7 linked regions of the Homo sapiens genome follow. The protein of the gene in region 1 purifies or fractionates together with the protein of each later gene. This does not show direct contact. Each region holds a gene or a part of one and is shown in the gene's direction. Other genes may lie near its edges. The genes, in order: SRGAP3, CCDC85C, RAPH1, NKTR, ROBO1, TGS1 and SH3GL2.

The links.
Region 2: the proteins of SRGAP3 (region 1) and CCDC85C purify together in Homo sapiens (affinity purification with mass spectrometry; 3 studies listed by BioGRID and IntAct, with this or other methods). This does not show direct contact.
Region 3: the proteins of SRGAP3 (region 1) and RAPH1 purify together in Homo sapiens (affinity purification with mass spectrometry; one large-scale study listed by BioGRID and IntAct). This does not show direct contact.
Region 4: the proteins of SRGAP3 (region 1) and NKTR purify together in Homo sapiens (affinity purification with mass spectrometry; one large-scale study listed by BioGRID and IntAct). This does not show direct contact.
Region 5: the proteins of SRGAP3 (region 1) and ROBO1 purify together in Homo sapiens (affinity purification with mass spectrometry; one large-scale study listed by BioGRID and IntAct). This does not show direct contact.
Region 6: the proteins of SRGAP3 (region 1) and TGS1 purify together in Homo sapiens (affinity purification with mass spectrometry; one large-scale study listed by BioGRID and IntAct). This does not show direct contact.
Region 7: the proteins of SRGAP3 (region 1) and SH3GL2 purify together in Homo sapiens (co-immunoprecipitation; one study listed by IntAct). This does not show direct contact.

What each region holds. Positions count from the first base shown.
Region 1 is NC_000003.12:9,243,147-9,246,646, reverse strand, and holds part of SRGAP3 (SLIT-ROBO Rho GTPase-activating protein 3), read left to right. Parts: intron 1-3,500. UniProt on the Homo sapiens protein: GTPase-activating protein for RAC1 and perhaps Cdc42, but not for RhoA small GTPase. May attenuate RAC1 signaling in neurons.
Region 2 is NC_000014.9:99,520,708-99,524,207, reverse strand, and holds part of CCDC85C (coiled-coil domain-containing protein 85C), read left to right. Parts: intron 1-1,967; coding exon 1,968-2,075; intron 2,076-3,500. UniProt on the Homo sapiens protein: May play a role in cell-cell adhesion and epithelium development through its interaction with proteins of the beta-catenin family. May play an important role in cortical development, especially in the maintenance of radial glia.
Region 3 is NC_000002.12:203,532,502-203,536,646, reverse strand, and holds the start of RAPH1 (ras-associated and pleckstrin homology domains-containing protein 1), read left to right. Parts: upstream 1-1,345; 5' UTR 1,346-1,536; intron 1,537-2,415; exon of another isoform or gene 2,416-2,438; coding exon of another isoform or gene 2,439-2,487; exon of another isoform or gene 2,488-3,259; coding exon of another isoform or gene 3,260-3,282; intron 3,283-4,145. UniProt on the Homo sapiens protein: Mediator of localized membrane signals. Implicated in the regulation of lamellipodial dynamics. Negatively regulates cell adhesion.
Region 4 is NC_000003.12:42,603,686-42,607,185, forward strand, and holds part of NKTR (NK-tumor recognition protein), read left to right. Parts: intron 1-3,500. UniProt on the Homo sapiens protein: PPIase that catalyzes the cis-trans isomerization of proline imidic peptide bonds in oligopeptides and may therefore assist protein folding. Component of a putative tumor-recognition complex involved in the function of NK cells.
Region 5 is NC_000003.12:79,761,499-79,764,998, reverse strand, and holds part of ROBO1 (roundabout homolog 1 isoform a precursor), read left to right. Parts: intron 1-3,500. UniProt on the Homo sapiens protein: Receptor for SLIT1 and SLIT2 that mediates cellular responses to molecular guidance cues in cellular migration, including axonal navigation at the ventral midline of the neural tube and projection of axons to different regions during neuronal development.
Region 6 is NC_000008.11:55,786,946-55,790,445, forward strand, and holds part of TGS1 (trimethylguanosine synthase), read left to right. Parts: coding exon 1-115; intron 116-3,236; coding exon 3,237-3,354; intron 3,355-3,500. UniProt on the Homo sapiens protein: Catalyzes the 2 serial methylation steps for the conversion of the 7-monomethylguanosine (m(7)G) caps of snRNAs and snoRNAs to a 2,2,7-trimethylguanosine (m(2,2,7)G) cap structure.
Region 7 is NC_000009.12:17,757,066-17,760,565, forward strand, and holds part of SH3GL2 (endophilin-A1), read left to right. Parts: intron 1-3,500. UniProt on the Homo sapiens protein: Implicated in synaptic vesicle endocytosis. May recruit other proteins to membranes with high curvature. Required for BDNF-dependent dendrite outgrowth.

The sequences.
Region 1 (3,500 bases):
ACATCACTTACTCTTGGCCCACACAATGTACAGTAGGGTTAGTGTGAACTCAGTTTCAGAGACAAGGAAACTGAGGCCCAGTTAATGTTAAATGACTTGCCCAAGGTCACAAGGCCGATTTTCTCCCAGGCTTGTGTTCCCTGACACATTGTTTGCCCGAAGCTGCCCCTTGAAGGATTGATGTCAGCAGCAGATGGCAGTTTTGTGGGGGGACTGGCAGCCTCTTGATGGAGTTCCATTGTTTACCCTCTTACTTTCATCCCGTTGCCTTTGTTGCATGCCTCTGAAGAACATTTGACCAGTCACCAAAAACAGTGCCCGAGGCCAATTACCTTTCTCCCTGGGAATCATCTGGCCAGTGGGATGCAAAAAGTCCACCTAGTCAGACAGATTTTGTGCTTTGTGAATTTTGTGAAGGGAACTTTTGATTTTTAAAAACAGTGCTGAGTTCTTTGTTGACTTGTTCCCTTTTATGTCTTTTTCAAGAATTTATAGACCTAACACAAAGGAATGTTTTAGAACAGTATTTTTTCTATTGTAAAATAGAAGGATTCATGCCTTCTCTTGCCTCATCAGATACTTGAAGCCTTTTGATTATGAAGCAGTAGTAAACCATATGCTTGCACATTTCTAGTGATGGGGAACTCACTACCTCCCAAGCCCACGTAGTCTATCATCTTTGGACAGCTCTGGCTCTTGTAAGCATTTTTTCTTTTTTCTTTTGTGACAGAGTCTCTCTGTGTCGTCCAGGCTGGAATGTAGTGATGTCATCTTGACTCACTGCAATCTCCGCCTCTTGGGTTCAAGAGATTCTCCTCCCTCAGCCTCCCGAGTAGCTGGCATTACAGGCACGTGCCACCACATGTGGCCAATTTTTGTATTTTTAGTAGAGACGGGGTTTCACCATGTTGGCCAGGCTGATCTCAAACTCCTAGCTTCAAGTGATCCACCCGCCTTGGCCTCCCAAAGTGCTACGATCATAGGTGTGAGCCACCGTGCCTGACCCTTGTAAGCATTTTTTCTTATGTTGCATTGAATATGTCTCTCATCTACTTATTGGTTCTATAGTTCCTTTCCCTTTGGACTTCACAAAATAAGACAGATGTGTCTTCCCTTGGACTGCCCACTGGGTGTGTGGAGCCTGGGAATATAACCCCTGACAATGATTATCCTCATATAATAGGATGGTTCGCTACCACTTACCATCTCCACTCTCCTCTGTCTCTACTGCATCCTGGGTTGCAAACCTCAGTGTCATTGGGTGCTTGGCAGATAGAATAAATGGATAAAGTTGGCCACGTGAAACAATTTGTGGCAGCTGGCCTACCACCTCAGTGCAGGCAGTAGAAGGGTGGTGGTGGTGATTGTGACGGACTTCAGAGTACATGTTCTGTCTAAATGGGCAGTCACTACTTAGGTTCAACCAATTATTGCTGTTTAGGAATGTAGGCCCAGACAGATTTTTCAATTTTTCAACAGATGCCAGAAATCTGGATGAGAGCTTTATGTTTTTAAAGAGATTTTGCCAAAAGGACCTCCAAAAGATTATATTATCAGTATCCTATTTCAAGAGTGGCACTGAGTTCTAAATGTGGTTCTCTAGATGTGGCCAAAGACAGAAAACAACTATCACCTCCTTTCTGCTGTCTGCAATACTACTATTAACATAGCCCAAGGATTGAATTAGCCTTTGGTGCTGCTCACCCCCTCAGTGCACCATGTATATTAAGTCTGCTGTGTTTCTCCAATACACTAGCCTAGGAGCCTTGTCAGAGAGAAGAAAATGAAATGCATTTAACATGACTTGTTCTTGGTGACCCCATGCTGGTGCCAAATGGACATTACTTCCTGTCCTAGGTGCTCATAAGTGTCCTTAACAAATCTGTTTAAGAACCTTGCCGGGAGTGATATCATATTATCTAGTCTGGAACTGGCAAACCATAACATTTTTCCCCTTTTGAAAATCAGAACATTTGCCAGGCTCCAGCTTTTTGGCACCTATCCTATTCTCTACAATTCCCTCAAAGATCACTGATGATATTTGGTGATCTTATCTGCAGGCTTTCTCAGTATCCTGGGGCTCTAATTCATCTTGCTGCCAGACATGATGGTTAGTTCTGCATCTATTCAGAGTTCCTATTTCCATTGCAACCTGATAGAAAATTGAAATAGAAATGCAATGATTGACTTTGGTGCTTTTTTTTTTGTTACATATTCATCCATCTTCTTAGTAGCAAAAGTCTAGAGGTTTGAGGAAGAAGGGCAGGTATGGAGGATGACCACAGAGGGGCATGTATTTATTCATTCATTTCTGCACTAATTCAACAAAAGTTGATTATCTACATTGTACCTAGTCTTGTGCTGAGTGTTGTGAGAGACACAAAGTATATGATACATTCTTTGCTTTCTAAGAGTTTTCTTGGAATATGGTGATAAAAATGAGAGAAAGAAATAAAAAAATCCCAAACACAAAAACTTCGAGAGCCAGAACGAACTGAATCTTAGAGCGTATATCATGCAGTGATTAGAAGATCACCTTAGGAATGCTCGCTGGTTTCAACAGGATAAAATGAAGAAAGCAGGCTGGGCTGGGCAAACAGAGGGGAGTAGTGGGGGCTGTGGCCAAGTGGGGAGTTCCTCTAGAGAAGGCAGATGCTGCTCCAGCCTGCTCTTCCTAGGCAGGAATGTGAGCCCAGAAAGGTCAGTTCCTTCAGTGTTTCAAGGGAATCTGGATTTTTAAGCAAAATCTCTTGATTTTTAAATGGTGGCTTAAAAATTTAAAAACACTATGCTTCCTGAACAAACATGTCGGTAGAACAGTTTTAGCCTGTTGGGCCACCAGTTTGCAAAATCTGGTCTACAAGTTGAAGTCCGCACGAAGCCTTGGTGAGGGGCCTCAGCCAATTTTCCTATTTCATCTTCAGTCATTTTCTCTGTGATAGGCTTGTGCTCTTATAAACGCAAAAAACCAGTCCCTTTTCTCTCTCTCTCTCTCTCTTTTTTTTTTTTTTTAAGACAGAGTCTCTCTCTGTCACCCAGGCTGGAGTGCAGTGGCACAATCTTGGCTCACTATAACCTCTGCCTCCCGAGTTCAAGCAATTCTTGTGCCTCAGCCTCCCAAGTAGCTGAGATTACAGGCATGCGCCACTATGCCTGGCTAATTTTTGTATTTTCAGTAGAGACGGGGTTTCACCATGTTGGCCAGACTGGTCTTGAACTCCTGACCTCAAGTGATCCGCCTGCCTCGGCCTCCCAAAATGCTGGGATTACAGACGTGAGCCACCATGCCTGGCGACCAATCCCTTTTCTCTAAATCCTCCATACCCTTCCCCTCCTCCAGGTCTTTCCCATTTGTGCCTTTACTCTCCTTACCCCCTGCCTCCCACTCCTATTTGCCTCAAATACTTCTGATCGCCCTTCAATGTCTACTCAAATGATGCCTTCTTCCACGATGCCTTCCAAACTCTTCTAGGCAGAATTAGTGGTCCCCTCATATCTCC
Region 2 (3,500 bases), on another chromosome or scaffold:
ATTCAGAGTGTGTGCTGGCTTAGAATGCATTCTCCATTGGAGAAGATTTTGTAACTCTCTTACTGTTGCAGAGTCCTGGCCAAGAAAATCAGGTGGTTTGGAATTTTCGCCCTTAAGTGGAGCTAGGGGTACATCTCTCAGGAGAGGTGACCCAGAGAGGCATGGGTGGCTCTGATGGGGTGGGGGGAGGGGTGTCACTCATGGTTGGGGGAGGGTGAGTGCTGGGCCTAGGGGTGGGGGCTGTAGCCTCTTCCTCTTTTTGGTACCTGGTGGGTGGGGAGGGGGCTTTCCTTGATCTGACCTCCACCTGCGGGCCGTGAGTGCCTCTAGTTAACCTAGGCAGGGTCAGCCAGGGTTAATGCCGTGGTCAGGGCATGGCAGTCCCATTTGATGGTTCAGGGCTGTGCCCAAGGCCCCCGTGCTGAGACCCCTTTGTGATGCTCGCCAGGGTTATCTAAAACCCATCACACTTTGGGGGCCCTGCAGGAAGGTTGGTTCCCACTTCTCTGTCTCTCCTTTATGTCCCTCCCTGACCTTGGACCACACCCAGGTCCTCCCTGAGGCCCAGGAAGCAGCTCCCAGCCTCCAGTGCCCGGCTGCCCTGGCTGACCGGCGTCTGGTGGGCGTGGGCTATTTAATGAGGGGAGTCAGTGCCGGATCCCTGCTTTCCTGTCTTGGCTCCGTGGGAGCTGGTAATAGAGCATCCACTTGCCTCCTCACCCCCGCAGGACACGGCTGTTTGCTGGCCCTTGAGCCAAGCTCTTGAGACCTCCCAGCCCCAGTGGGGGGCCTGGCCAGGGCTCTGATGGGGCTGGGAGAACACAAGAGCTGGACCTCAGTGAGGCTGGGGCTTGTGAGAAGTGCGGGGCCAGGTCCAGCTTTTGAGGGAGGCAAGCAGGGTGTGTGTGGGATCTTTCACAGCCAGGCCGAGGGGCTGGTGAGTGGAACTGGGACCCCAGACATGGCTGCAGCCTGTCCTGCCTTCCTTGCCCCTGCCCCAGCCCAGCCCCAGCCTGGGCCTCCCCTGCCCCTGCAGTTTGTTTGGGTAACTCAACAGCCTGCTGATTTATGGGACATTCCGCAGGGTTTTATCTGCCCAGCCACTTTCTCTCAGTTCCTTTGAAGTAGAAAAGGGTGTTTCGGCCAGAAACACCCAAAACCCTTTAGTGATGCAGAAAGAAAAGAAAGGCCGGGCCTTCTGCTGGGCCGGGCCAGGGGAGGGGCACTGTGGGACTGACCAGAGAAGTTTATGGGACCTGTGGATTCATTCTGGCTCCTGGTCCCAGCCCCAGCCCCAAATTCTGGGGGTCGGTGGTGTTTGCTTTGCTCTTAAGCAAAGGGTCTAAGGCCAAGCCTTCCTCCCTCCCTCCTGTGTGCAGGAGTTAGTTACAACCCCACAGCTTGCACGAGTTCTCAGGGATTCAGAGGCAGCACCCAGGACCTGCTTTAGGAGCTCCCTGCCCATCCGATGGGGGAGGCAGCCTGGGCGGAGCATCCCGAGAGAGCCCCGAACCCGTGGGAGGTGGGAGGCCTCGCCTGTGGATGTGGCCCCATCTGCTGCCGATGGCTGGCCCAGGCCCTGTGAGTGGTGCCGTCTGTGCAGGGACCCAAGGGCAGGAAGTTGGAGCGGAGGAGCCAGGGTGAGTCACGGGGTGGGAGAGACACTCTCTCCTCACTCGCTCTCACTGGCTCTTCTTCATTCATTCATTCATTCTGTTTATTCAGCCATCCAACAAATGTTTACAAAGCCCACGTTGGAGAGTGGATCGCTGACATTTGAGCTGGGGAGAGTGAAGATCGATTGATCCCGGCTCGGGGGATGGATAAGCGGTGTGGAGGGGAGGGTGGAGGGGTCCTCCGGGGCCGTGCCTTTGAGCAGCCCCTGCTGCCGTGAGGAGCCATGCCCAGGGCCCTTGTCCTCCTCAGCCTGGCCCTCCGTCTAACCCCTCTCCTTCTCTCCCCTGCAGCAGGCAGGCTCCGGAGAGTTCCGCACGCTGCGGAAAGGCTTCTCGCCCTACCACTCGGAGTCCCAGCTTGCGTCCCTGCCGCCCTCCTACCAGGACTCCCTGCAGAACGTGAGTGTGCACCCCAAAAAAGCCCACATGTTCTGGATGAGGGGCTGAGGCTCAGGCGGGCCAGTGACCTGCCCGGAGGGGCACAAGGATCTGGGTGCCTGAGTTCAGCCCCAGCCCTAGGCCCTGTGTCCGTGTCCCATCCAGTGTGGCAGTTAGAGGCGGAGCCCCAGGTGGGTTGACACTGCTGGAGGTGCGGGGCAGTCTCCAGAGGCCACGTGCGCAGGGCTGCCCGTGCCTAGCCCCTGTCCCTCTGAGCAGCTCATTAGCCTGTGCCACTCCTTGGCCACGGTGGGGAGAGGGTACCCGGCCAGCCCTGGAGCTTGGGGTTCAGGTTTGTGGATTCTGCACTGAAATGACCAGCCTGATGCCTCCAGGGGTATCCTCTGCCCCTACCTGGCTGACCTGGCCTGGAGGGAATGGGGTGGGCGGCTTGGAGCCAGCTCCCGGGAAGTGGAACCTAGCTCAGGACTGTGCCCTGTAGATAGATATGATGGCAGTGGGGAGCCACAGGAGTCCAGGCCCACTTGCCCTCCTAGGACTGGGGGCCTTGCCTTGTGGGACTTCACGCCTCCAGGAGCCTTGGTGGGTGTGTAGCGGATGCTTGGGAAGCATCGGCTGTTCTCGTTGCGGCACCTGCAGAGCCGTGTATGGAGGTGCTTCTTGGGCAGCACGTGCGCTTGTAGCAGCTGTGCCCCTTCCTGCTCTCTTCCCTGCACCCCTTGCCCACAAGGCTGACCCCAGGCCCCCGGTGCAGAGCTTGCTGGGCCTCAGTGCTGGCTGCTGGCTCTGCGATTTCTCTTTTGCTGCCCTTCCACCTTCTCCAGGAATGCAGCTGTAGAGCCTGTGCAGGCAGCAAAGCCCGCCAATGGCCGATATTCCAAGCATTTATCCGGAGTCCCGTGGCTGAACGAGGCTCTAACTGTTTCATGGTGGAGGGCTCTGAAAAGCCAAGGGATGCCCTCACGGGGCTGGCTCCTTAGTCTTCATGCCCCGTGCCTCTCATTCATTCAGATCGTGGGAGGGAGTAATAGCAGCTAGCAGTTACTCAGTGCTATGTCCTGAAGTCTTCCGCGTGGCCTGCAGGTTGGGAAGTGCTGTGCAAGCACAGCTCTCACATGTACCAGGCCCGCCAGATGCTGTCTCCCTGCAGGCCTCTGGAGAGCACACCTCAGGCATGGGCCGAGCCTCAAGGCCTGAGAGTGCGGATAAAATGCTGTCAGAGTTCAGGAATGTTCAGGAAGGCTTCCTGGAGGAGGCAGCCTTGGGAAAGGGTTTGTTCCTCTTGCCTCCTTTTTTCCTCTAGACTGCTCTGTGCATGAAGGGGTGTCCCCTACTTTGGAGAGGAGGAAGTGAGGCTCACAGGGGTGGGGTGGATGGCCAGGGCCCCATGGTGAGTGCGTCCTGGTGCCTGTGTGTGCCTAGAGG
Region 3 (4,145 bases), on another chromosome or scaffold:
TTAAAATACAAAAGGGCAGTTATGTTTCAAAAGTACAGATATCTCAAGTGTGAAAGGCAGCCAGTATCTGTATTGTATGGTTCTAAATACCAATTTGAAACAGATTGTGTACCAGTTTGGAACAGATTGTACAAAAAAGACTGAAACCACTTGAAAGTCCTCAAGAATATCAGGAAGTAAGAATGTAATTAACCAAACCAGGATTTGGCCCCAGGACAGAGAAATGAACACTCTCATTCTTAGAGAGGGAGCTAGGATTTCAGGAATGTACAGTCAATGCTTTGTGAAAATTTAAATAAATTCTTAGCAAGCAGATGGGAAGACATGAAAAAGCAATGTTCATTGCAACCAATTTCAGGTCACACTCCCAATTTCTCAATTGTTTTAATGCTGTCAACAAACTTGCTTTGCATGTAGCCAAGCAAACATAACTTAGTTCCATTTGTTCCTTTCTTTGATCAACTTTAGGTGAAGGTCAAAATAAGGACATACTTAAAATCTAAAAGTCTGCCGAAGTCAAGCCTGCATCTAAAGAGGCAGCAGCTGAGCTTAGCGATAAGGAAAAATGCCGACACCTTACTACTACACAATTCCGATGGGGTGGGGGGACAGAAATTAAGGAGGCAGGATTAACAGATTTCGAAGTTTAAAAAGTAAAGGTCATCGAAATGTCCCGTTCCTAAGTTTCCCAATACATTCCATGAAACTGCAGAGACTTTTTGGCCAAAATGGGATTTCCTAAAGAAGGGCCTCACAGATCTCAACGACAATGGTCCTGTAAGTGACCGAGCCAACCCCGGATGCGTTTCTGGAGTCTCTGAATACACGGACAGCGTATAAAGGTGGATGCGTACAGCTCCCTGACAGAACTGCTGGAGGCTGCTGTGCCTCCCAGGGCGCTAGGACAGAGGCTGCTGGGCCGGCTTCCTATGAAAGGCGAGCAGGGGGTGGGGCAGCACTGGGATTTTCCTCCCCACTCATTCATTCTCTGATTCACTCGTTCCTGTAGGCGGCTCACAGGGACTTGCGGAGGAAAGGCGAGGCACGAGCGGAGCCGCGGTTGAGTGCGGCCGGGCGCGGCCGGGCGCCTGAAGGGAGGGCGGAGGGCCGGCGCGGGGCGCGGGCTAGGGAAGGGCGGCGGGCGCGGCGGCCTGCGCCGGAAGTGAGTGGTTGGCGGCGGGCGGGGGCGGCGCGCGGTCCCGCGCGAGTCGGCCCTACAGTCGGCAGTCCGGCCCTCAACCCCGCCTTCTGCGTCTCGGCTGGACGCGAGCACACTCGGCTCCGCCGCCGCCGCCGCCGCCGCGGGGCGCTGCGGCCGCCCCGCCCCCGCTCCCGCCGCCGCCCGCCAGTCAGTCAGTCAGTCAGTCAGTCAGTCAGTCAGTCAGTCACTGAGCGCGCGGCGCGGGAGCTGCTGGCAGTCGCTGCGTCTCTGGCGAGGGAGCGCCGCGCCTGGGGAGGAGGCGGAGGCAGCGGCTGGAGGAGCGCGAGCGGCGGTTTCCTTGCCCGGGGCCGCGGGAAGGCCGACCGACTGCCGCGGTGAGTGGTTAGCCTCGCCCTCGGGGCCAGGGGGTAGGGAGCCGGCTGGGCGCGGGGCCGTGAGGCGCTCCTGCCGCTCCCGCCTCCATTTTCCCGGCGCCCGGCCCCGCCATCCGGGTGCGGTACGGTCGGCGGCAGCCTGGGGCGGGGTCGTTGCCAGGTTGGGGATCGGGCCGGGGCTGGCTGGACCGCTCCCGGCTGGTGGATGGAGGTCGGTGGGGCCTGGACTGCACCCTGCGCCCCTGGGGACCGCGACGGAGGGAGACAATGAGATAAGGGGCCGCCTGGGAGGGTGCGGTTAGGCTTCTCCGACCCAGCACCGGGGGCTGGTGGCCCGGGACCGCAGGGAGGAAAGGACTTTCCCCCGCCCAGCTGCAGAAACCAGCTACTGGATGTCGGGTTGCTTGGGTTTCGATGCCCCCATCTTTCATAGATGAGTTCAGTGCAGAGATTTTGAAAGGCGGGGCTCCTTCTGTGTCTTCTTTCTAATTAAACAGGATAAGTAATTGCTTCATTGCTTTTTAACCGCGTCTCCTCTTGCGGTCTGTATTATACATTCCCGCCGGAAATCCAAACTGCAATTCATGGGGGGGGGGGGGGGGTGGACGGAGGGAGGGGGCAGTGTGATAGTATTAGGATGCCTTCGTGTTAAGACAGGTTGAAAGATGTGGTTTTCTTAAGGCAGTGACTTAGGGTGTCCCCACTGTGTGAGCTGGAAACCGCATAAACCTTATTGCTTACAAGCTCGAAGACATGGTTTAATATGAAATAAGAGCCTTGAGGGAGGGTGTAAGTGTTACATGTGTCTTGCGTGTGTGCATTTCTTAAATTCTTTGGGAAGATCCGTTGGGGAAATCCGGGAGAATGGAAAAGTTCTTCACTCAATCTTCCAATAAGGGTTGATGTTGTCTGCAGCATTTCTCAGGGAAATGTGGAGAGCTGCTTATGTAGGTAAAGTCCACCGTTAAGGAACAGTAAAGGTAACGGGTTAGGGATGAGGCGTGATCGGATTATTAAAGAGTCAGTCCATGGGGATATTAAATTCAGCAAACATTTATGGAATACCTACTCTGTCAGTTAGGCTGGGTGACACCAGGTGAACAAGCATGGGGTGGTGGAAAGAGCTCTTCGGAGTGGGGGAAACCGTACGCCCTGGAATTGGCTTGCAATGTGAGTTGGATAAGCTATTGAACTCTGCAGTACGTTCCCTATCAGTAAAATGGGAATAACACCACCTGTTTACCTCCCCAGATGTTTTTCATGTAGATTAAATGAGATAATGTATGCAAAATGCGTAGCACCTTGCCTGGCATAGAGGTGTTTAACAGCACCTTAAATTCCTTTCCTCCTCGGGGTGGTTTTTTTGGGGGTGCGGTGCGGGGGGTTAGTGAATGTAGGTAAGTGTAATACAGTGAACTATATAGTAAAATGTTGAGGTATAGAATAGGAGAGCGAAGAAGAGAGATTAATTCTAAATTGAGGGAGGAATGCATGGAAGCCTCGGCATTTAAGTGAAACCTTTAAGGATGAGTAGGATTTCAGCAGATTCAGATGGGGAGGAGGACATTTCACATGGTGGTGCTATCCTTTGAGAGCCGAATTGAGGGGGAGGACCTTTGGGGGAGGGGCAAAATAGAGACGCTCAATAGCTTTTAACTCTTGTTGAGTCTGACCTTCAAAGATTGTCTCCGTTATTTTGCTTTTTGTGTGGTGAATTTCCCAGAAACCAGATGCAGCCCTACTCAAGTAAGTACAAAAAGCTTAATTCATGATTTTTTGGGTTAGACATTTTGTATAATTTAGATTGCTGTCTCCTGTTTGAATGTAATAAAGAATTATTTGTAGATGTTGCCTTATGATAAACGTTAGCTTTATTTGGTAGAAGCAGCAGCTTATTTTTCAGACTCAGAGGTCTCACTAAGATTATAGAGTATGTGACTGGGTGAAAGGAGTGGAGTAGTGGGCACTATTGGGTGTGTTTTCACAAATATTTAACTCTTTATTTTCCAAAGAGGTGTTTTTAACCATTGTCTTTGAGGATGATTATGTCTTTTGGTTTTGCTGCCCTTTGGTGCTCACCCCATAAATACTTACTAGATTGGCATCGTGGATAACTGTCACACTATTCACAGATTCTTGGTTACACATTGTAGAATCTCATGGCTTTGGTTGCCTTGGTTTGGAAGTAATTGAATGTCAACATTAGTATTGTTAATCCCAAACACTTAATTTTAGGAAAATTAATATTAGTGAAGCAAGATGTGACCTCAGGCAGATAACTTATCTTGGACTCTTAATTCCTTTACCTATAAAATGAGAAGTTTGGATTAGATCACTGCTTCTTAAACTGTTTCACTGAACTTGAGAATTTCAGAGATTCTGCAGATGTTTGACTTTAATCTCAATAAAAATGTATTTTAAACTTATAATAATAAAAAGTGGCCACTGTATGACGTACACTGTTTTAAACACTTTATATGTGATAATTTATTTAATTCTCGCCATAACCCTATGAAATAGAGTCTATTATTTGAGAAAATAGGCACAGACAATAAGTTGCCCAAAGACTGCAGAGCTATAGTGGCAGAGCTGGATTTGAAACCGGGCAG
Region 4 (3,500 bases), about 33 Mb from region 1:
ACTAGCACTTTTTGAGTATATTAACTAAATAGTGGATTTTACACAACTTTTTTTTTTTTTTTTTTTTTGAGGCGAAGTCTCACTTTTTCACCCAGGCTGGAGTGCAGTGGTGCCATCTCGGCTCAGTGCAACCTCCGCCTCCCAGGTTCAAGCGATTCTCCTGCCTCAGCCTCCCTAGTAGCTGGGATTACAGGCATGTGCCACCACCCCTGGCTAATTTTTTTGTATTTTTATTAGAGACAGGGTTTCATCATGTTGGCCAGGCTGGTCTGAACTCCTGACCTCAAGTGATCCGCCCACCTCGGCCTCCGAAAGTGCTAGAATTACAGGTGTGAGCCACGGTGCCTAGCCTGTGGTTTTTATTAAAGAAATTGGTGCATTTTATCTAAGTTGTCAAGTTTATGTGCTTAGAGTTGTTTGTCACAGCCTCTTTTAATATCTGTGGGGTCTGTAGTGGTGTCTCTTTTCATTCCTGATATTGATAATTCTTCCTTTTGTCTTTTTCCTTTGTCAGTCTGACGAGAGGTTTATTCATTATACATTTTCAGAGAACCAGATTTTGATCTGATTGAATTTTGTTTCTATTTTTGTTTTCAATTTCATTGTTCTCTTTCTTTCTAATGCTTGCTTCAATTTTTATTTTGTTCTTTTTCTAGTTTCTTAATGTTGAAGCATAGATTGTTGATTTGATACCTTTTTTTTTTGAGACAGTCTCAAATGACTTTTAATTTAATTCCATTATGGCTAGAGAACACACATGATTTCCGTTCTTTGTGCACTTGAATGTACATTCTGCACTTGAATGTACATTTTTGTGTAGTGTGTTCTATAAATGTCAAATCCAGTTGGCTATTAGTGTTGGTCAATTCTTTTATATCTTTGCTGATTTTCTACTTGTTTATTGATTACCAGGAGAAGAGTATTGAAGTCTGCAACTATAACAACTGTAATTGTGGATTTATCTATTTCTCTCCTTTTTTTTTTTTTTTTTTTTTTTTTTTTTTTTTTTTTTTGAGACTGAGTCTTGCTCTGTCGCCCAGGCTGGAATGCTGGAGTGCAGTGGCATGATCTTGGCTCACCACACCCTCTGCCTTCCTGGTTCAAGTGATTCTCGTGCCTCTGCCTCCCCAGTAGCTGGGACTACAGGTGTGAGCTACCATGCCTGGCTAATTTTTTGTATTTTTAGTAGAGACAGGGTTTCTTCATGATGCCCAGGCTGGTCTTGAACTCCTGGGCCCAAGCAATCCACCTGCCTCGGCCTCTCGAAGTGCTGGGATTACAGGCATGAGCCATCATGCCCGGCCGTATTTCTCTTTTAAGTTCTCTTAGTTTTTGCATCATTCATTTTGAGGCTCTTAGGTGGGTACATACATATTTAGGATTGTTGTCTTCTTAGTGAACTCTTTTATTATTATGTAATGACACCTTATATTCCTAGTAACTTTCCTGGCTCTGAAGTTTCCTTTGCCTCAGATATGAATATAGTTACTTCCGTTTTATTAGTGTTTACATGGTATATCATTTTCAATCCTTTTACTTTTAACCTTTCTGTATAATATTTAAAGTGGATTTCTTCTGGATAGCAAATAGATGGGTCTTGTCCCACTCTGACAATGTCTTTTAGTCAGTATGTTTAACTGTATACATTTAATATAATTAGTTATGTTTAGATTTGCTTTACTGCTTAAGATTCATAAAAACAGACTGGAAAATGTGTTTTTAGCAAACATTGTAAAGTATTTAGAAGTGATACCAAGAAATTAGTCTTAAGAGGCGACAAAGGATTCAGGCAAATGTTTGAGTACTACTTGTGTCCTTGGTCAAGCCGTTTAACAACCTCTTTGTGAAATGGAACTACTATACAGTTTTGTTCTTAATTTGGTTCCAAAGCTAACAGGACAGGAAAATTTGCTTATATTCAAAATTAAACTAAACTTTAGACTCACATTCAAAATAGCTCATACTTCGAGTGAGGTATATGGGATCTGGTTTGTTCTGAGGGAATAGGAGAAATGCATCTCCGCTCTCAAGGTCACCCTGGGTCATAAGCTCATGAGTAGAGTGACTAGATGCAATGGCCTGAAATTTAAATGACTTGCACTGTATATGCTCATTAACCTGTTATATTATTAACCTAATAATAGGACTCCAGTGTAATAGTGCTTACATAACAAGATTGTTGAGAAGAGTAATTAAATAATGCCATCTTATAGATTGTATTAGAGTAACATGAACTTACTCTAATAGGGTGGATTAAGGAGCACAATTTTAATTAGGCACACTACTGTTTGGTATAACAATCGGATAAGCAGGTGGGGAAGAGTGGCGTGGGAGAGAACAGTTGGATAGCTCTGCTGCTCTGAGTCATTCTTGTTTGTCCTAACTGATTTGAAGGCCACTGTGCTAATGACAGTGCTGGGAATGGAGGCAGAAATGAGGTTTGGTCAGTTGTAGGGTTTCCTCAATGATGTTTAGATTTTATAACGTCCTCTTATAGCTAAAATTTATTATTGATACTCCTAAAGAAAAAAATATTTTTACTGCAACTGGAAACTCCCTTGTCCCCCCCAGTTCCCATTTTTATATGGAAATAGTTATTTTTATATGTGATTTTCGATAATGCAGTGTTTCTTAAAATTCTATCACTGTTCTTGTAGAGCAGTCTGTATTTGTTAAGTATATATAGCACAGTATCTGATTTTTTTTTTAAGTTGCTTTAAGTATTGCATGTGCAGGAGTATGGACACTAAGTCAAGTTAAGGGGCTTTCATATTTAGGTATTGTGCAGGTAGACCTTTGATTTTGGTCCCTTTTGTTCCCAGAGATTGTATCTTAAAGTCCGAGAGACAGTGCTGTAAAGTGAAATCCTGAATTCTTGCTTTCACTCCCTATGTATGTATACTTGTACAAAGAATTGAAGCCTGATTCTTAATTCAGCAATGTTTATTTTATTAAACACCAATTAATCTTTATGTAATCACTTTTTAACATTTTTTAATATTTTGTCTTTACTTTTATTTTAAATTTTTATTTTTTTCTTGGCCAGGCACAGTGGCTCATGCTTGTAATCCCAGCACTTTGGGAGGCCAAGGCAGGAGGATTGCTTGAGCATAGGAGTTAGAAACCTACCAGCCTGGGCAACATAGTGAGACACTATCCCTAAAAAAAAAAATTTCGTTTGGCTTTTTTTTTAGAGACAGAGTATCACTGCGTTGCTCATGCTGGAGTACTGTGGCTATTCACAGGCATGATCATAGTGTGGTGTAGCCTCAAATTCCTGGTCTCAAATGATCCTCCCACCTCAGCCTTCTGATACGTAATCACTTTTGGTGACTGTAGTTTACCCTCATATGAAGATACCTTGTATTAGTTAGGCTAAATGATAAGATTGGTTCTAACATAAAGGTTAAATAACAGTACTTACAACAATATAAAAGTTTTGCTTTTCTGTCACACAGCACTCAGAATCAGCAGATCAGGGCTGTCCATGTGAGGGATCC
Region 5 (3,500 bases), about 71 Mb from region 1:
CTATGAAGGTTAGTGATTTCCAGTGATATAGCACTGAGCTGAGCATGGGAGGAGGGGAGAGACTCAACAGCTGCCTAGGGAGTCCCAAAGGTTTAATGCCAACTTTCTCTTACCCTATACTGCACAAAATAAAGAACAAATACCCTAATATCTCCCCAAAGAGAACTGCATTGTTCTGTATAATTTTCTTTTATCTTATAACATAGTAGAATCAATTCAAATACAAAATAACATTGACCAGAGATGAAAAGGAAGCTATACACTTGTGTGCACTATTTGGAAAGTAGTGTTGTGCTTAGCTATAAAATCTCACTTTTTGGCCTTCATCTATACTTAATACATTAGGAACTACTTTTATTTAAGCAAGATTTAATGTATTACTTTCATTACAAAGCTGAGAAACTCTAGACACCACAAAGATGTGAATTTTAAATGAAAAAAAGCAAGGCAGTAAAGTAAGCCCCTGGCAGCTTGATGAATGAGCAGGTGCAATGCACCATTTGAAATGTATCTTGAGGTGAGCTTCCACCAATCTGCTGGAGAATGAGCTCCTTCTTGCCACCTAAACTCAACTGATTTTCCTCTTTCTGAGACCACAGACAAAAACATGATAGCATACAATAGGCTAGATTATGACCTGGTCACATAATCATTTATCTCTCTAAACTTGCTGTTGAAGTGAGCAATGTTACTGTTAATGTATTCATATTTGTACCTAAAATATATTAGTGCCAATTCTCCTAATTCTATAGGAAATTGAGGTCCTAGAAGGCTAACTGACTAATTCAAAACTACATAGGATAAAACTGTAGAAACAGTGTTAGTCACCGTACCTGCAATAGATATTTCACTTAATCCCCACATAACCCTTTCAAAGTAGGCTTTATTAGATGTCTACAACACATGAAGAGAATGAAGCTCAGAGAGTTTAAGGAAAATAGACATGACTATTCAGCCAAAAAGGGGCAGAGCCAGGATTAAAAACAAGTTCTTTCTCATGACAGAGTACATGCTTTTCTAGTATGTCATACTGCTGCTTTTAAGGGAGCCATTCTCTTCAGTTAACTGGACCTACCTATTTTCCCCCATATTTAAACAAGGAGTTTGATTATTCCTTGAATTTTATTTTAGTACTCATAATTTTTTAATCTCCTTGATATCTTTTTCATGTCCAAAGCATTATCTGCATTTCTCCAAGAGCAAACTTTTACAGTTACTTTCCAAGGATCTCATAAACAGTAAATAACTTTTTCAGAAAATATACCCCACCCCTATCTGCCACCCTGCCTGTATCATCTCTGGGGGTCAGAGCACTTGGGGAAAACTGAGGGGCTTTCCATTTTCTTTGAAATTTGTGCATATGTAGCCAGGATGCCTGCTAAGGATCCAGTACGTCAGTTTCAGCCAGTTGTTCTTTTCTGCCTTTCCATTTCTGCACACGTGTCTTCTCTAATCTGCAAAATTATCTTCTTCATTTGGCCAAACCCTATCCATTTGTCTAGGGTGGTTCATGTTCCTTCTCCACCATAAAATTTTTCTTATTATTCCAACCCTATTGCTGTTCCTTACCTCTGAAATTCCAAGTAATTTCCAATAACATCTGCTGTCTAATTTGGTCTTTATTCAGGGATTAAGAGGAGTAAGCTAACATTTTTTGAGCCTTTACCTTATATACTTTTACATACATTATCCATCAACTATAAATTTCTATTTCTTCATTATATTTCTGCATTTTGCCCTTATTATTTTTTCGCACTCGATAGTCACCCAGATGTTGTGATACATTTCCGGAGTTTCAGTAATGACATTCAAATTTTATATTTCTTGTCCATGCATTGCTCCTGATTGTCATACCTATATTTCCAAAGATCTAATTTCATCTCCACCTAGAAATGCATCACAAGCATTTTAAAGGAAACTGTCCTAAAGGAAAGCATTCAAAGCCACAGGTATCATCCTCCCTGCCACACTTGCTTATCTCTTTAGATTTCCAAGTGGTAAATAGCACATCATGCATCAAGACACATTCCTCTTTGCTATGTCCCTCTGCCTCATTCCCTATGATCATGTAGTGAAAAGAAAAAAAAAATTATGATTTTTCTCTTGAACTTCACCTCTTCTCCTCATGGGCCTGCCCTCCAATTCTTACTTCCACTTCCTGGGATCAGCCATTTGAAGTCATGTGCAACAAGTTTGGCGAGCTATCTGTCAGGGCAAAAATGACAATTTCTAAACTCCTTAGTCATTGAAGGTACTCTGTGATATGAAGCATGAATTCTTCTTTTCAGTCTTCAGAATTATCAATTACTATGAAAATTTACTTGCATTTTCTTAAACACTCAGGATGTTTCATTCCTCTCGGCTTTTGTGTGTGTGTGTGTGTGTGTGTTTGTCCAGAATTCTGCCCCAAATGGTTCTCACTTTCTTATTTTTTTAGCGATGTTTGAAAACACAAAACAAGTGTCACTTCTTCTGTGAAGACCTTCATGTTAAGAAAATAGGTTTAAGTATTCCTCCCTTTCTGATCATTTAATAATGCCTCTGAAATTCCATTGTAATCATTTATTCGTTTCTACTATGAGACTGCGCTATGTTCTGAATGCTGTGTCTTCTCCAAATTCATATGCTGAAATTAAAATTAGGAAGTGGGGCCTTTGGGAGATGACTAGACCATGAAAGCAGAGCCCTCAGGAATGGAATTAGTGCCCTTATAAAAGAGGTCTGAGTAAGCTCTCTTGCCCCTTCCCCCCCGACTAAACATAAGAAGATGGCTGTCTATGAAGCAGAAAGTGGGTCCTCCCCAGACACCAAATCTTCCAGCGCCTTGATATTGGACTTTCCAGCCTCTAAAACTATGAGAAAAGCATTTCTATTGTTTACAAGGCACCTATTCCATAGCACTTTGTTGTAGCACCCTAAAGATACTAAGACAGACTCTAAATTCTGTGAAGCAGTATGTCTCAAACTTTGTCCATTGAACCAAATAAATCTTAAAAGTGAAAAAAGTAGCCCTTAAAACACCAGTCCCAGGATCCCCCATCAGAATTACTACAATAGAATATATGGGGGTGGGGCACTTGAGTCCACATATTAACAGAATCTATTCCAGGTGTAACTAGGAACAGGGAGTTTATCACAACAATTGCTCTCCAATTCAGTCAGATCAATATGGCACTTAATTTAGCATTTGGGGGAGGAGCCATTTGCAAAGCTTTTTAGATCTTATTTTGTGTCTTCCCAGATTACCGTGCTTCAGAGAAAGATTTGCTTAGAGTATAGTAAATTAGATCACATGAGTCACTCTTACTGAAGTACAAGAGTCCTGCATCAGAAAGGCAGATTTGCCAAGAGCAGAATTTCAGTAATCACATGTGAACATGGCATTTAGAGTTGAGGTGCTGCTGTGCAGAGTACTTGGAGCTTTTAATGACTCTGACTTTTTATTATTATGACAAGTTTGATTAGCAGACACAAAAATGAGTGAAACAAGTTCCCTTGAA
Region 6 (3,500 bases), on another chromosome or scaffold:
GAAGTTAGTAGCAAAAGAGAGTGCCCTGCTTCCGGCCAAAGTGAACCACGTAATGGAGGAACCAATGAGGAAAGCAACTCATCGGGGAATACAAACACAGACCCACCAGCTGAGGGTAAGATTAACCAAGATTTATTCTGCCATGTAATGGTTAGCAAAATGAATTCATTTAGCAAAATAACTACTAATCCTTTATTGTAGAGTTAAATAATACCAAGTACATTTCATATAATAATGAAATGATTTAATCCATCCTGTTTTCATATCACAAGTTATCCTTTTCTATTAATAAGAATATTTGCATGCAGTTCTCAAAAGTATCATTCCTTCTCTTGTACTTTGGTGGCTAATGAAGGAAAATGTGGAATCTCTTGAGAAATCTAATATAAAGTGAGCTTGGAACTTTTAGTTTTCCACAGCAAATGAATTTATAAGAGGCATGTTAGAAAGCAATTGAGAATGTACATTTGACATTAGGCAAATGTCTTATGAGTCATATGTGGAATTCACTTAGGACAAGTGAAGTCTTGCTGTGAAAAAAAGATCTCAATGGGGCACAATATTAATTTATAACTGGAATGGTTAATTTCAGGATTCTCATCAATAAAATATCCAGGATAAGGAACTTGATTGATTCCTGAATAACTGATCCAAAAAAAGCTAATTGTGCAAACTGGTGCCACTCAGGACTAGAGAATGCCAATGAGAAGTGTTTTGAAAGGAGTTAATCTGAGTACGGTGCGATGAGAATGTTTACTTTGCATTGCTGTAAAGGAATACCTGAGACTGAGGAATGTTTAAAGAAAAGAGGTTTATTTTGGCTCACAGTTTTGCAGGCTGTACAGGAAGCATAGTCTCAGCATCAACTCCTGGTGAGGGCCTCAGGAACCTTCCAATTATGGCAGAAGGTGAAAGGGGCATAGGCATGCCACATGGCAAGAGAGAGAGCAAGAGAGAGGGGGGAGGTCCCAGGCTCTTGTTAGCAATCAGATATTGCAGTAACTCATTACCATGGGGAGGCACCAAGCCATTCATGAAGGATCTGCCCCATGACCCAAACACTTCCCACCAGACCCCACTTCCAACATTAGGGATCACATTTAAACATGAGGTTTAGAGGGGACAAACATCCAAACCCTATCAGTGCTCTTGCTGGGGAGAGGCTTCTGCCAATTAACAGCACCAGGAAAATGGGAGAGGAGGAAATTTCTGTGACATCTGCATATCCTGAAGTTTTGGCATCCTGATGTTACATGCTGAAGACATCTAGTGTAGAGGAACTTTCTTCTCAGCCTTACTCTTTTGTGAAACAAATGGTTTTGACCTTTTACTTAACAATCAGATTTGCTTTGCTTATCTCAGATTGCTGATAATACTTCATCCAGCTGACAGTTTCTAAAGAGCTCTGTCAACTTGCTTTTTTTCTCTATATTCTTAGATTCTTATAAGTGGAGCCTACCTCAGTATAATATTCTCATTCCTTTCTATTTTGGTGATACATTTTCATCCTTTTTTTTTTTTTTTTTTTGAGATGGAGTCTCACTCTGTCACCCAAGCTGGAGTGCAGTGGCACTATCTCAGCTCACTGCAAGGTCCGCCTCCGGGGCTCAAGCAATTCTCCAGCCTCAGCCTCCCGAGTAGCTGGGACTACAGGTGTGTGCCACCACATACAGTTAATTTTTTTATTTTTTTATTTTTAGTAGATACGGGGTTTCACCGTGTTGGCCAGGCTGGTTTCAAACTCCTGACCTCAAGTGATCCTCCCGCCTCAGCCTCCCAAAGTGCATAGGCGTGAGCCACCATGCACAGCCATCCTTTTTTATCTGAAGATTTTATATTAGTATTCTGATACTCTTCTATACTCTCCTGATACCTTTCTGTACATATTTTGACCATAAAGTTTATAATATACATATTGGGCATTGTTTTGGCCTCTGACTTACAGTCTCATTTACCCTCTTTGGTTCTCCTCCCTCATCTGCCTGCTTTTTTCTTTGGCAGACACAGTAAGTCTCACAGTCTCTGCCTTCTGTTGCTTGTTCCCTTACTTACGTTTATAGATTGTCCATTTCTGTAATAACTCCAGTTTGTCTGCCATCAGGATGAATTTGAGGGTTTTAGATTTTGATTTGTTTTAGATCCTCCCTTGAGTTCAAAATTTAAGGTATAGGTTATGCTTCTATGTAAGTATGTTTTCTACTCTTTGTGGTTGGTGCTTTTCTGAAAGAGTCAAAGCTTCCCACTGTCTACCCTGCAGACATCTTTTTCCTCCTGGTCTCAGCCACCCACTTTCTTCCAGTCTGACAAAATAGAGAACAAAGACAGATTTGTGCCTCAGTTTTTGTCACCATAAGTTAAAGAACTCTTCTTAAAGATAGTATTGTCTTTGTTACTCTCATTATTAATGTTACTTTCATACTATATTAAAGGCAAATGAAGAGAAATTCTTCTTAATCAATGTGATTATGCCCCCTTTACGGTCATTTCAATTAAAATTCCATAAGAATGTGACTGCTAACAGCTATCACAAAGGCAGCTTTGTGGGTTAATTTGTATAGATTTGGGCAGCTATGAAGAAGTAGTTTTAGTTTGTTGTGTTTTTTTTTAAGTAGTTAGATCATGAACATTTTTAAACCTGTTAAAAAACTTTATACAAATTAAATTTAATAGAGTTTAACTGAGCAAAGAACGATTCTCGAATCAGGCAGCCCCAAGAGCCAGAATAGGTTCAGAGCAACTCCAGGGCTGCCACATGATTGGGATAACATTTATGGACAGAAAAAGAAAAATGATGTACAACGTACAGAAGGTGGAAGTGAGGTACACAAACAGCTGGATTGGTTACAGCCCAGCTTTTGCCTTACTTGAACACCATTTGAATAGTTGGCTGCCTGTGATTAGCCAAAACTGTGCTTGATACAAGAGTAGGTTACAGTCTTTTTATACCACCAGTTAGGTTACAGTTCACTACATGTGGAAAAACCTTTAAGCTGAGCTTAAAATGTATACATGGACAGTTTTAGGCTAAATTTAATTTAACAAACCTTATAGTTAAGATTTTTAAAATGCTCAGACTCTGCATGTAGACACAAACAGGTAGATGTGAGCTGGCACTTTGATGCACATGTACAGTTCATTGTAGAAAAGGTGCTAAAATATTTTCATTGGCTTTGCAAATAGCAGAAAAGTTGTCAAACCAAGGGGGAAAAGCTACTGCAATATTTCTGCCTCTTTAGATTCACAGAAGTCTTCAGGAGCAAACACAAGCAAAGACAGACCACATGCCAGTGGTACTGATGGAGATGAAAGTGAGGAAGACCCACCTGAGCATAAGCCAAGCAAACTGAAGAGGAGGTAAGTTACATGAGACCCCTCTCACCAGAGCGTGTTAGAGTAAGCATTTGTATGCATAAGCCAGTGGTTATTAAATGATTGTTATGTTCACAACACCAGTAATCATGTAAGAAGAGGCAGGATCTACTGGTAAGATTCTGAGCCTT
Region 7 (3,500 bases), on another chromosome or scaffold:
CTGATGGCCAGTGATGATGAGCATTTTTCCATATGTCTGTTGGCTGCATAAATGTCTTCTTTTGAGAAGTGTCTGTTCCTATCCTTTGCCCCCTTTTTGAAGACTTAAATGTTAGACCTAAGACCATAAAAACCCTAGAAGAAAACCTAGACAATACCATTCAGGACATAGGCATGGGCAAGGCATTAGACTTCATGTCTAAAACACCAAAAGCAATGGCAACAAAAGCCAAAATTGACAAATGGGATCTAATTAAACTAAAGAGCTTCTGCACAGCAAAAGAAACTACCATCAGAGTGAACAGGCAACCTACAGAATGGGAGAAAATTTTTGCAATCTATTCATCTGACAAAGAGCTAATATCCAGAATCTACAAAGAACTCAAACAAATTTACAAGAAAAAAACAACCCCATCAAAAAGTGGGCGAAGGATATGAACAGTTTCACTTTCTTTAAACAGCCTTCCCTAATGGCTCCTCACACCAATCCCAGGCAAGGTTAGTTGAAGACGGAGGCTCAGGAGCTTATAAGATGAGAAATTCTTGTAATTTAGGATGCATCAAAACTTACTTTCAAATAGTAATTGGAAATTTTGGACATTGAGAAAAATAACAGTTACATGTCATAAGTTCAAAGTTAAACTGTACTGTTCTCAAATGGCAATAAGCTCAATTCTGGGAGCTTATGGGAATTGCTAGTTATAATAAGTTACTTAAGTGGAAATCTTCTTTATGCTAAGTTAATCAGGCCTGTTACTAAGAGAATATGTACTTGGATATTACCAGCTTAGGTATATAAATAACTCTTCTGCCAAGTGCATAACAAGGCACATTCAGGGGTCTCATGGGGTTATGGCCCTCAGCTTGTCTCTGGCTGACACAGTGTAGTTTAGCAAAAGAGTCCTGGGCATTATTATGGAGGACCGAGGTGGAGAGAAGTTAGAAATTAGTCAGCCTCCTACTGGCAGATGACTTCAGAATGTGACTAATCATTGGACCATTCAGTTCTTCTGGTACTTTTTTAAAGAAAGCCTCTGATTAATGGCCTTGGGAACTACTTTTCTCCTCATAACACACTTAAAGAGCTCCTTTCCCTTCTCTAGGCCACAGGTGTGGACATTTAATAAATTAAAGCGTTAAACAGAATGCTCCCCTGGTCTCTTCCTCTTATGTCCATGAAGTCTATCAAGTAATTATCTGTAAGAATGCAGCCATGCCTGGTGCAGTGACTCATGCCTGTAATCCCAGCACTTTGGAAGGCCAAGGCGGATGGATCACTTGAGGCCAGGAGTTCGAGACCAGCCTGACCAACATGGCAAAACCCCGTCTCTACCAAAAAATACAAAAATTAGCCAGGCATGGTGGTGCGTGCCTCTAGTCCCAGCTTCTTGGGAAGCTGGGGAGGGAGAATCGCTTGAACCTGGGAGGAGGAGGTTGCGGTGAGCTGAGATTGCTCTACTGCACTCCAGCCTGGGGGAGAGAGTAAGACCCTGTCTCAAAAAAAAAAAAAAAAAAAAAAAAAAAAAAAAAATTGCAGTCAGTAGCAAGGGCCTAGGAATGGATTTGCCAAAAGTGGGTCCCTCTTTAGTATAATTCCTGATAATGAAATAAAAATGTAACTGTATTGAATAAAGTTGTTTTCAGAGGTGGTGGATTTCAAGCGAAGGTTATTTTATGTTGTAGTCAAAAGGGTTTAGGTAGAACTTGCTCTGTAATGATGCCTGGACTAGGTAACCAAAAGTGTTGAAGGAGTCTGCCTCAATGGGCACAAAGTCGGTAAACATCTGGGTGGGATGAGCTCTTTCTTTAGACAAGTCACAAGGGACACTGGAATAGTTTTTATTCCTACTTCTCTTTTAAGATGGAGTCCTGCCCTGGGGACCAAATGTAATAATCTAATATTGGTATCCCCAGGGTCTCTGGGTCTTCCCTGAGACCACTGGCTTCAGCCAAGCTAGTGGTGTCTGTTTACACTACATGAGTGGTTGGGCTCCCTACACAGAGCTTAAAAGGGAAGGGGGTTCTGTAGCCAAAATGAGAAACTAGCTTTCACAGCCTTCCTTGCTCACCTCCCTGTGGGCCAGGTGGGATAGACACTGCAGGTACCAGTCTCTGTAGGGAAACCCGTGAAACTGAGGGCCTGTGGTTCAGCAGATCAGCATTGCAGAGCCTCCCTTCCAGAGAGGCCCAGGATGGAATAGTCTTGTGGATGAAGCTTCCACAGACTTTGAGAAGTTTCAAAATAAAAACAGAATATGGGATGGCAGGTACCTTCCTGCTGATGCTGTTTCACCGGCTACTGCCAGGTCCCCAGCCCCATCTTAGGGAGGGAACAAAGCATATTCCAGCTCTGACTTGGCCTCTCTTTCAGATTGGGAGATGCCTCTGTTGCCTGTCTTTTTAGGAAGAGCTTTTGCTTTCAAGAAGTATAGGATGGTCATTAAGAACACACACACTGGAACTAGAACTGGGGAAGTTTCTTAACCCCTCTGTATCTGTTTTCTCATATACATTACAGAGTTTGTGAGCATTGAGTGTGTAAAGATATTTATAGTCCTTAGAACAGTTTCTGACAAACAGAAGACAGCTTATGGTGATGATTGTTATAATTATTAAGGACAGAGATGGGGGAACCTTAGAAATTGGTCAGCCCCTTAACAGCAGATGACATCAGGATATCAAACAGCCATTGGAAAATTTAATTCCTATGGCACTCTTTTTTAGAAACCTTGGCTTTTTGAATGATTTTCCTTCTCATCATAACTACAGGATATTTAGACACATTTGTCATCTAATTCCTTAATTCCCATCACATAGGCAGCAGGAGATCTACATTTGTACTTCTATCACACATGTACCATGGAGTTTCAGCATATTTGTTCCATACACACCTTTGATCCATTTCCCTGGCATAAGACATTCTATGACTTGAGTACATAGTGGTTGTTTGGAATTTTGCTAATACTAGGACCTTCACATATGGCTTCACAAGTTGTGTACTGCACAACTCCAGGGGGCTACTGAGCATTTTTAAGCTAATCACTACCTGGTACACACTCAATCTTAAAGATCTTTGAAATTTGAATCAATCAAAAGGATATTTATACAAGATTTATATGTAGACAGGCACATTTGAAATTGCATCCTTCTAAAGATAATTTTATATCATTATAACTTCACAAGAAAAAATTTGTTTTCCTCTGTTGATCCTAGTAATAGCAAACACACACAGTAATATGACTGCCATGGAATGAAAAATTATTAAGTATTGAAAAACTGAACTGAAAGATAAAATCTTTTAATGTGTGGATTATGGAAAAGGAGGAGGCTTACTTTATGCAAGGCTGATATTATATACCGGTATATATTATATACCGGTATATATTGGTATATACTGATATTATACTGGTATATACTGATATTATATACTGGTATATATTATATACCACTAGGTACAGCAGGTTATGGAAAAGTTTCTCATAGTTGAAGGGGGAGCCTTTT